Linked DNA regions of Homo sapiens. The protein of the gene in region 1 interacts with the protein of each later gene in a biochemical or structural test. Each region holds a gene or a part of one and is shown in the gene's direction. Other genes may lie near its edges.

Region 1 (3,802 bases):
GAAACACTCTCCTGTGACCCATGTGGAAGAGACCTACAGCAGAGCAAGAGGCAGGGAGGCTGGCTTTGTCACACTGTTCATGGCGACAGAGAAGGCGTAGGAGGGGCGGGTGGACAGCAGGCGTGGGCGCAGCACCATTATATACGTCCCTCAAGAGGTGGAGATGGTGAGAGGGCAATGGAGAAAAAGCCAAGGAGACAGGCAGATGGCCAGGTTTGCTCTGCGTTCATGATGGGAGGGGAGGGCTGTGCTTGGCTCAGGGATCCACGGTGTCTAACAATGCTGCTAACTTGATGCTGGGGCAATGGGCTGACCATTAAAAGAGCTGCTGTAGAAAGTGTGTTTGTAATAGAGTGTGTACAGGAGGAAGGGGAAATAGGAGAGGGGCTGGTTTTTGTAGATTTAACCTGATTGTTTTTGCTGTAAGTTGAAGGGTGACCCACGGTTCCCTGTATGCTGTGTCTCCTGCCCCCACGTGCCCCTTCCATGTCTACACACAGTAAGCTCACTAGAGCAATGCTAAAACGAGAAAGAGTACGCTTTGGAAGACTTGCTGCACTCCAGGACCGTCACTAGCGTGATGGCTGCAACTATACCCACCCTAATATCTGTCAACACGAGCAGGGGCAACTTAAACTCTCAAAAGTCTCAGGGTTCTCACCCATACCATTAGGGTGACGCTCGTGTGCATCTTCTGTGGCTGATGGGTAAATTAAACAGGACGTAATGTGTAGCGTACTGCATGTGGTGGTCATTGGTAGCTGTCAGCAGCTGTAACAGGAGAAGTTGGCTGTCTTTATTTCCCCTCGATGGACCAAGCAGCTGCTGGATCATGGCCACCCAGCCCCTCTGAAGGAGTGCTCGGAGGAACACAAGGGGGCTGGTCTTCCAAGAGGAGCCCTCTAGCATGGCAGTGGACGGGGTTCAAGCCCCTCTGATTTATTATCCTCATTCTGCACTTCCCTGTAGCAAGTCACATTTTTTTCTCTTAGCAATAAAATGGGGCCTTCAGTCTCATGAGTCATAACATCGAAACCGAGTCACCCATCTGATTCGGATGCAATGATTAATCTTCAGTGCTTAGTTAGAGCCCTATGTTAGGGTTAGAATCCTCTGCCCTAATGTTCTGAGGGTTCTTGCTGTTGGGCCAGAGGTTGGGAACTGGGTGGAACTCAGCCCCCACTCGCCCACTCCCTGCATTGCTGCTTCTCTCATTTCCTTTTTTAGATCAAACCTTTTTTTTTTTTTTTTGGGTGGGGGTCATATTAATCCTCAATGCCTGTCCAGAGACTATAACAAGATCCCATCTGAATTAGCATTATGCATAGATTTTGCCCGTTTCTCCCATCTCCTTGTACTTTCCCTCCTTCTCACATCTGGAGCCCCTGGTCTGTCCTGCTTGCATGGCCCATGGGGTACCTTGTCTGCACTGGTCTCAGGCATTCTCTGCTCTGTTCCCACCATCACCTCTAGAGGAGACTATGACTCGCTCACCTTGCTCCCCCCACCAGGGTCAAGAATGTTAACTCAGACATGCTTAATATGACTGGGATCTGGGGATTGGGGACCTTGAATCCTCTGTGCATTCATTGTGTGCGCTTAGATAAGCTGTCTTCCTTCCCTGCCTCAGTCTCCTTCGTTTAATCTGGAACAGCCATGGTGATGGCAAATAAACACAGGCTCCTTGTGAAAGAACTCGAGGGAGGACATGCCTGTAGGGCACGGGGTCACTCGCGCCGCTGACCTGCTGCCGTCCTGTTTCTGAGTCTCTGCAGTCTCGGGAGCTCCAGGATCCAAATTCGTTCTGTGCCCTGACCTTCTGCCTCTCATTCCTTGCAGACTTTAAGTTTGCCATGTACCCACCGTCGATGATCGCAACTGGAAGTGTGGGAGCAGCCATCTGTGGGCTCCAGCAGGATGAGGAAGTGAGCTCGCTCACTTGTGATGCCCTGACTGAGCTGCTGGCTAAGATCACCAACACAGACGTGGTAGGTGGCCACCACCTTCTTGGCTAAGTCCAGATGTCTCTTCTCAGCTCAGGGAAGGAGACGACGGATTTGATTATGTTGTGTCAGAGGTATTTTTCTGGTTTGTTTCCTAAGATCGACATCCAAGGGAGTGCAAAGTTCAGCAGGTGACACCCCCTCTTAAGGTTCTGAAAAGCTGTGCACGGGAAAATACGGAAGAAAACTCAGCAAGCAGATGAAGGGGGTGGGGGTGGGAGGGCTGTTTACCGATGTTCCTTTATGGCGTGGGCTTCTCAGTGGGTCTGAATTGTTGCTTCATTGCCATATTTGTACACGCTGCCAGGCTGCCTCTGCCCGGCAGCGAAGAGCTGCCGTGTCTGCTTTCACACGCTGAGGCTGTAAGGCGCACAGAGGAGAAAGGAGAGCCAGGACTCAGCTGCAGTGGATGGAGCAGACACACAAGAGGTGCCCCACTGTGAGAACGGTGTCCGTCCCTGGCAAACCTCTCGACCCCTCCCCGCTCTCTCTTCCCTTTTGTTCAATGCAGTAATGGATTACAAAGTGCTTTCAAAAGACAAAGTGCCATACAAACTCAAGAAACTATTATTAGCTACGGAGCTTCCCCATTCTGTGTGCCCTGTGGACGGCCCAGAGGCTGTTAACTTCCTGTTGCCAGAATTTGGAGCTCCTGAGAAGAAAGGTTTTGAGAGAGACCAGGGTCAAGTGAGCCTCTGAATTCAATCAGCAGGAAGCTGCAGTCCTAGCCCGTCCGAGACAGGATGGTGCCAAGAGGTCAGAGAGGCCATTCCTTCGTTTTCCACGGGCAGGACAGGGACTGAAGTAACCAGCCAGGAGCGGGGTGGGCAGTGGCTGAGCTGGGGCTAGAACCCCCAGGCTCCGACTGCCCCCTGGAAACTTCCCACTCCACCCTTGTTGCCGCTCCTGGGATCTTTTGGTTTGAAAAAAAACCCTGGGGTTTAAAGTCAACCTGAGAGAGGGGTGTTGGCCCTGAGCCCTCATGCATCACCATGGAGAGGCTGAAGAATGCTGGGCACTTCACGATGACACCCTCTGGATGGTCCGGGGGGATTCAGATGCCCTCTGCGGGCTTTTATTGAGTTAAGGGATCATGTGGTTTATAGGCCTATGGCTGAGGCCTGCACGAGGGATACGGGACAGGTTAAACCTCAGAGAGCCCACGGCTGCAGCTCGCCGGCCTCCTCGCCCGCCCACCTGGATTTTCCCTGGCATTTGTTCCCAGCTCAGAGAAATGGCGCAGGGAGATGCTGACGGAGCAAATCCGGGGTCCTCCTCTGAGATAGTTCGTAGATATGGTTTTAAAATGCGGGCTCCAAACATACGCTTTTTAAACGAGGACTCCAGAACACAGACTGAAAACCTCCCTCCAGTGCAGCATGAAGAATGCTTTTCTAATCCTCCAGAGGAAAATCGTGGACGGGACTTAACGTTTATAGAAATGGTACGCTTTCCTCCTTTTCTGAATGTCTCCAATTAAGGCTGCCTTACAAATAGGACTCTCAGCCAGTTTAAGACAAGCCCTTCCTCAATGCCTGGAGACAAAAATGTCAGTGACAGGAGTTGGAAGCGGCCACCCCCCTCCTCCTGCCCCCAGGCATTGTAACCTTTTCCCCCGATGTTGATAGACCTGCTCTGATGGGCTGACCACCCTACCGGCTCCAGCCTTTTCCCACCTCCCTTTGTCCCCCGTTACTGATCTCACATGGACAGTGGTGGAAATTTCCCTCCTGGGAGTTGCTGCTGAGTCTCTTGGCTTTTCGAGACCGCAGGCAAGTCAGTCCGTCATCTCATCTGGG
Region 2 (4,517 bases), on another chromosome or scaffold:
TGATAAGTCCTAGGACTGTTCGCTTCCGGGTTCTGAGCCCTGGCGTCAGGGAGGAAGGGCATGTCCAGAACAATGGCCAGAACCAGGCCCGGCCAGCTCGGGGGGTGACGGGGGCGGGTGGCTGGGGCAGCGCTGCCGTGTGCAGGGGCCGAGCCCTGCGGGGCCGTGAGCCGGCCCTGCCTTCTGCTTCCTTCCCAGATGTAGCCGCCTGTCCCGGGAGCCTGGACTGTGCCCTGAAGAGGCGGGCAAGGTGTCCTCCTGGTGCACATGCCTGTGGGCCCTGCCTTCAGCCCTTCCAGGAGGACCAGCAAGGGCTCTGTGTGCCCAGGATGCGCCGGCCTCCAGGTACGAGAGCAAAGGGGGAAGTCGATGGGGGGATGTCCCTGCATGAACCTCTCCCTGTAAGAAGCGGCCGGCTGGGCGCGGTGGCTCATGCCTGTAATCCCAGCACTGTGGGAGGCCCAGGCTGTTGGATCTCATGAGGTCAGGAGTTCAAGACCAGCCTGGCCAACATGGTGAAACCCCGTCTCTACTAAAAATACAAAGTAGCCGGGTGTGGTGGCACACACCTGTAGTCCCAGCTACTCAGGAGGCTGAGGCAGGAGAATTGCTTTAACCCGGGAGGCGGAGCTTGCAGTGAGCCGATTCACCACTGCACTCCAGCCTGGGCGACAGTGCGAGACTCTGTCTCAAAAAAAAAAAAAAAAAAAAAGAAGGCCGGGAGCAGTGGCTCACGCCTGTAATCCCAGCACTTTGGGAGGCCGAGGCGGGCACATCATAAGGTCAGGAGATCGAGACCATCCTGGCTAACACGGTGAAACCCCATCTGTACTAAAAATACAAAAACAAAATTAGCCGGGCGTGGCGGCGGGCGCCTGTAGTCCCAGCTACTCGGGAAGCTAAGGCAGGAGAATGGCGTGAACCCGGGAGGCAGAGCTTGCAGTGAGCCGAGATCGCGCCACTGCACTCCAGCCTGGGCGGCAGAGCGAGACTCCGCCTCAAAAAAAAAAAAGCAGCAGCCTGCAGCCTCAATGCCCAGGCCTGTGCCAGGTGGTCTTGGGGCCCCTGGACCTTGTGGGGTGTTGGGTCCAAGGCCTGGGAGATCCTCATTCACTCTCCACGAAGCCTCCCATCCTTTCCAAATGGAGGTGGGCCCAGGCCTGGGGCAGTCAGGCCCTCCCAGGAGAAGGGCTGCACGATGTGAAATGCTGGGATGGCCACGGGAGAGGAAGGGCCCATTCTCCCCGGGCCTGGGCTCTGCAGGGTCTGCCCAGAAGCCCTCCAGGCCCCCACTTCCCCGTCCCCAGGCAGCTTGCTCTTTTCCACCACTCACTGTCCTGTCCGCCTGTTGGCAAATGTTGAAGGGTGCCAGCACTGGCTGGGTGCTGGGGATGCCCCGCTCGCCAGCCTGAGCCGCATCTGTCGGGATGGCCAGTCACTGAGTGACTTCAGGTGTGGTGAGGGCTTTGCTCAGAGGTGCTGGGGGTGGGAGCAGCAGCGGCTTCCTGGAGGAGGTGTTGAGAGGAGCACCGAGAAGTGGCTGTAAGGGTCTGTGTGGATGCACCTCCTGCCAACCTGGGAGCGTCCACCCAGACTGTGCAGCCCACAGTGGGTACCGGTGGAGCCCTGCCACCAGCCCCACCCCTGACAGCTGCCCCCGTTCTCCCAATGACCTGGGGAGGGGTCCCGGGTGCTTGGCTTCCTTCGGCTTCCCCCCACTCCTTGGGGAGTCCCTGCCCCTCTACCCGAGAAGGTGCTTGGAGGTGGGGAAGCAGAAGGGGCTGTGCTGGCCAGCCCTTTATGGACATGGGTTGGGGCGAGAGACCCCACTCCTTCCTCCCCGTGCCCGGTCTTTGGACGTTTCCCTAGCGCCTCCTCCCTTGCCCTGCCTCCACTTTCCGGGAAGCACTGCCCCTCACAGGAAGCGCCCGCGCTGTCACCATGGCAATCTGGGAGGGAGAGGGCCTCCAGGCGTGTACCCAGTCCTCAGGCTCCTGGGAGGAACCTGCCAGAAGCGGGGAGGCCGGGCCTGGGGCTACCTCCTGGACGGACCCCTCCACCTGATGGCCCCTCACCCTCCCCAGGCGGGGGCCGGCCCCAGCCCAGACTGGAAGATGAGATTGACTTCCTGGCCCAGGAGCTTGCCCGGAAGGAGTCTGGACACTCAACTCCGCCCCTACCCAAGGACCGACAGCGGCTCCCGGAGCCTGGTGAGACCCCCGCTTCCCCTGCCCCACGGCCCTGTCCCTAGCCCAGTGCTCTCATTCTAACCTGTCCTCTCTCGCAGCCACCCTGGGCTTCTCGGCACGGGGGCAGGGGCTGGAGCTGGGCCTCCCCTCCACTCCAGGAACCCCCACGCCCACGCCCCACACCTCCCTGGGCTCCCCTGTGTCATCCGACCCGGTGCACATGTCGCCCCTGGAGCCCCGGGGAGGGCAAGGCGACGGCCTCGCCCTTGGTAGGTCTTGGTCGGGGGTGGGCAGGGGCAGCAGGGCGCCCTGCAGAAGGCCGCCCTCACACGCCCCCTCCTGCAGTGCTGATCCTGGCGTTCTGTGTGGCCGGTGCAGCCGCCCTCTCCGTAGCCTCCCTCTGCTGGTGCAGGTGAGCCAGTGGCCGCGGGCAGGGCAGGGAGGGTGCCACACGCTCAGAGGTCTCAGGCCCCACTCCCCACAGGCTGCAGCGTGAGATCCGCCTGACTCAGAAGGCCGACTACGCCACTGCGAAGGCCCCTGGCTCACCTGCAGCTCCCCGGATCTCGGTGTGTGGCCCCCTTCAGCCCTGAGGCTCCCGCCCAACTCTGGCCGCCAACTGACCCTCGCCTCCTCCTTCCCACAGCCTGGGGACCAGCGGCTGGCACAGAGCGCGGAGATGTACCACTACCAGCACCAACGGCAACAGATGCTGTGCCTGGAGCGGTGAGTGGCCGCCCCGGCACTGCCACCCCCACCCACCCACCCCCCATCCCCACCTCCACCTCCATTTCCACCTCCCCTGGCCAACTTTACCCCAGGCCCTGCCACCCTCACCTGCACGCTAACCTTCACCTCCCCCGCCGCCCTGCACCCTCACCTCCCCTGGCCAACTTCACCCTGGGCTGTGCTCCCCTGCCACCCCAGGGCTGAGGTGGGCTGAGTGCCCACTTCCAGACTGGGCCACTGGCACCTCGAGGGCATGGGGAGGACCCAGCGATCCCCCCCCACCCAGGCATAAAGAGCCACCCAAGGAGCTGGACACGGCCTCCTCGGATGAGGAGAATGAGGACGGAGACTTCACGGTGTACGAGTGCCCGGGCCTGGCCCCGGTGAGTGCCTCAGGGTGCAGGGAGGGGCGAACCATCTCCTGGGGTTCCCTCCCAGCAAGTATCCCCCCAGCCCACCCACTGCCCAGCCTGACACCCACATTCGCAGACCGGGGAAATGGAGGTGCGCAACCCTCTGTTCGACCACGCCGCACTGTCCGCGCCCCTGCCGGCCCCCAGCTCACCGCCTGCACTGCCATGACCTGGAGGCAGACAGACGCCCACCTGCTCCCCGACCTCGAGGCCCCCGGGGAGGGGCAGGGCCTGGAGCTTCCCACTAAAAACATGTTTTGATGCTGTGTGCTTTTGGCTGGGCCTCGGGCTCCAGGCCCTGGGACCCCTTGCCAGGGAGACCCCCGAACCTTTGTGCCAGGACACCTCCTGGTCCCCTGCACCTCTCCTGTTCGGTTTAGACCCCCAAACTGGAGGGGGCATGGAGAACCGTAGAGCGCAGGAACGGGTGGGTAATTCTAGAGACAAAAGCCAATTAAAGTCCATTTCAGACCTGCGGCTTCTGCCTGTGTTGCCAGCTTGGGTTAATCTTCCACCGCCTCATCTCCCATTTGGGGCCCTGGTAGACGGACCCCTGAGTGGGGGGCCTGGGGTCTGCTCTTGCACCCCCAGAGGGAGGAGGCCTTTCTGTTCGCTCATTAGGAGGACCTTCCCATCCCGTGGAGCTGGAGGAGAGGCCACGGGATCATCCCCACCCTCCTCAGCCAGGCCTCACCCCTGCAGACCCTTCTACGCAGGTGGGAGAGGGGAAGGGTGTAGTGTAGGGCTGGGCCAGCCCAGGGTTGGCTCTGCGGCCCGGAAGACCCCATCCTGTGTGATAAAGAGGGCTGGAGCAGGTGATAGTCCACACGCACCTGGATGTGGGTGCCCACCACCTCCAGGCAGAAGGAAAACAATGCAGACATTGAGTCTGGGTTTCTCATGGGGACCACGGCCGCCAGGCCCTGCAGCACACGGAGGAGGGATGGCAGGCAGAGGTACCTGTGTGATACCAGCTATGCAGAGCCAGGTGGACCCAGGGGGCCAGGTGAGGGGTGTGATGGGAGGGGCCTGGACGCCTGGAGCTGGGACTTGGCCACTCCTAAATTTGGAGCAAGAAGGCCCCGAGGGAGGAAGGGGAATCATGTGGTCAAAAGTGCCCAGATCAGGCCAGTACCAGGTCAGCGTGCGGGGGCTGAAACTCTCTGTCCCACTGATGCTGGGGACG

The links.
Region 2: the proteins of CCND2 (region 1) and NPDC1 form a complex in vitro, tested with the Homo sapiens proteins (one study listed by BioGRID).

What each region holds. Positions count from the first base shown.
Region 1 is NC_000012.12:4,287,003-4,290,804, forward strand, and holds part of CCND2 (G1/S-specific cyclin-D2), read left to right. Parts: intron 1-1,839; coding exon 1,840-1,988; intron 1,989-3,802. UniProt on the Homo sapiens protein: Regulatory component of the cyclin D2-CDK4 (DC) complex that phosphorylates and inhibits members of the retinoblastoma (RB) protein family including RB1 and regulates the cell-cycle during G(1)/S transition.
Region 2 is NC_000009.12:137,038,755-137,043,271, reverse strand, and holds the end of NPDC1 (neural proliferation differentiation and control protein 1 precursor), read left to right. Parts: intron 1-198; coding exon 199-345; intron 346-2,084; coding exon 2,085-2,210; intron 2,211-2,287; coding exon 2,288-2,458; intron 2,459-2,534; coding exon 2,535-2,601; intron 2,602-2,673; coding exon 2,674-2,758; intron 2,759-2,835; coding exon 2,836-2,915; intron 2,916-3,204; coding exon 3,205-3,301; intron 3,302-3,407; coding exon 3,408-3,500; 3' UTR 3,501-3,809; downstream 3,810-4,517. UniProt on the Homo sapiens protein: Suppresses oncogenic transformation in neural and non-neural cells and down-regulates neural cell proliferation. Might be involved in transcriptional regulation.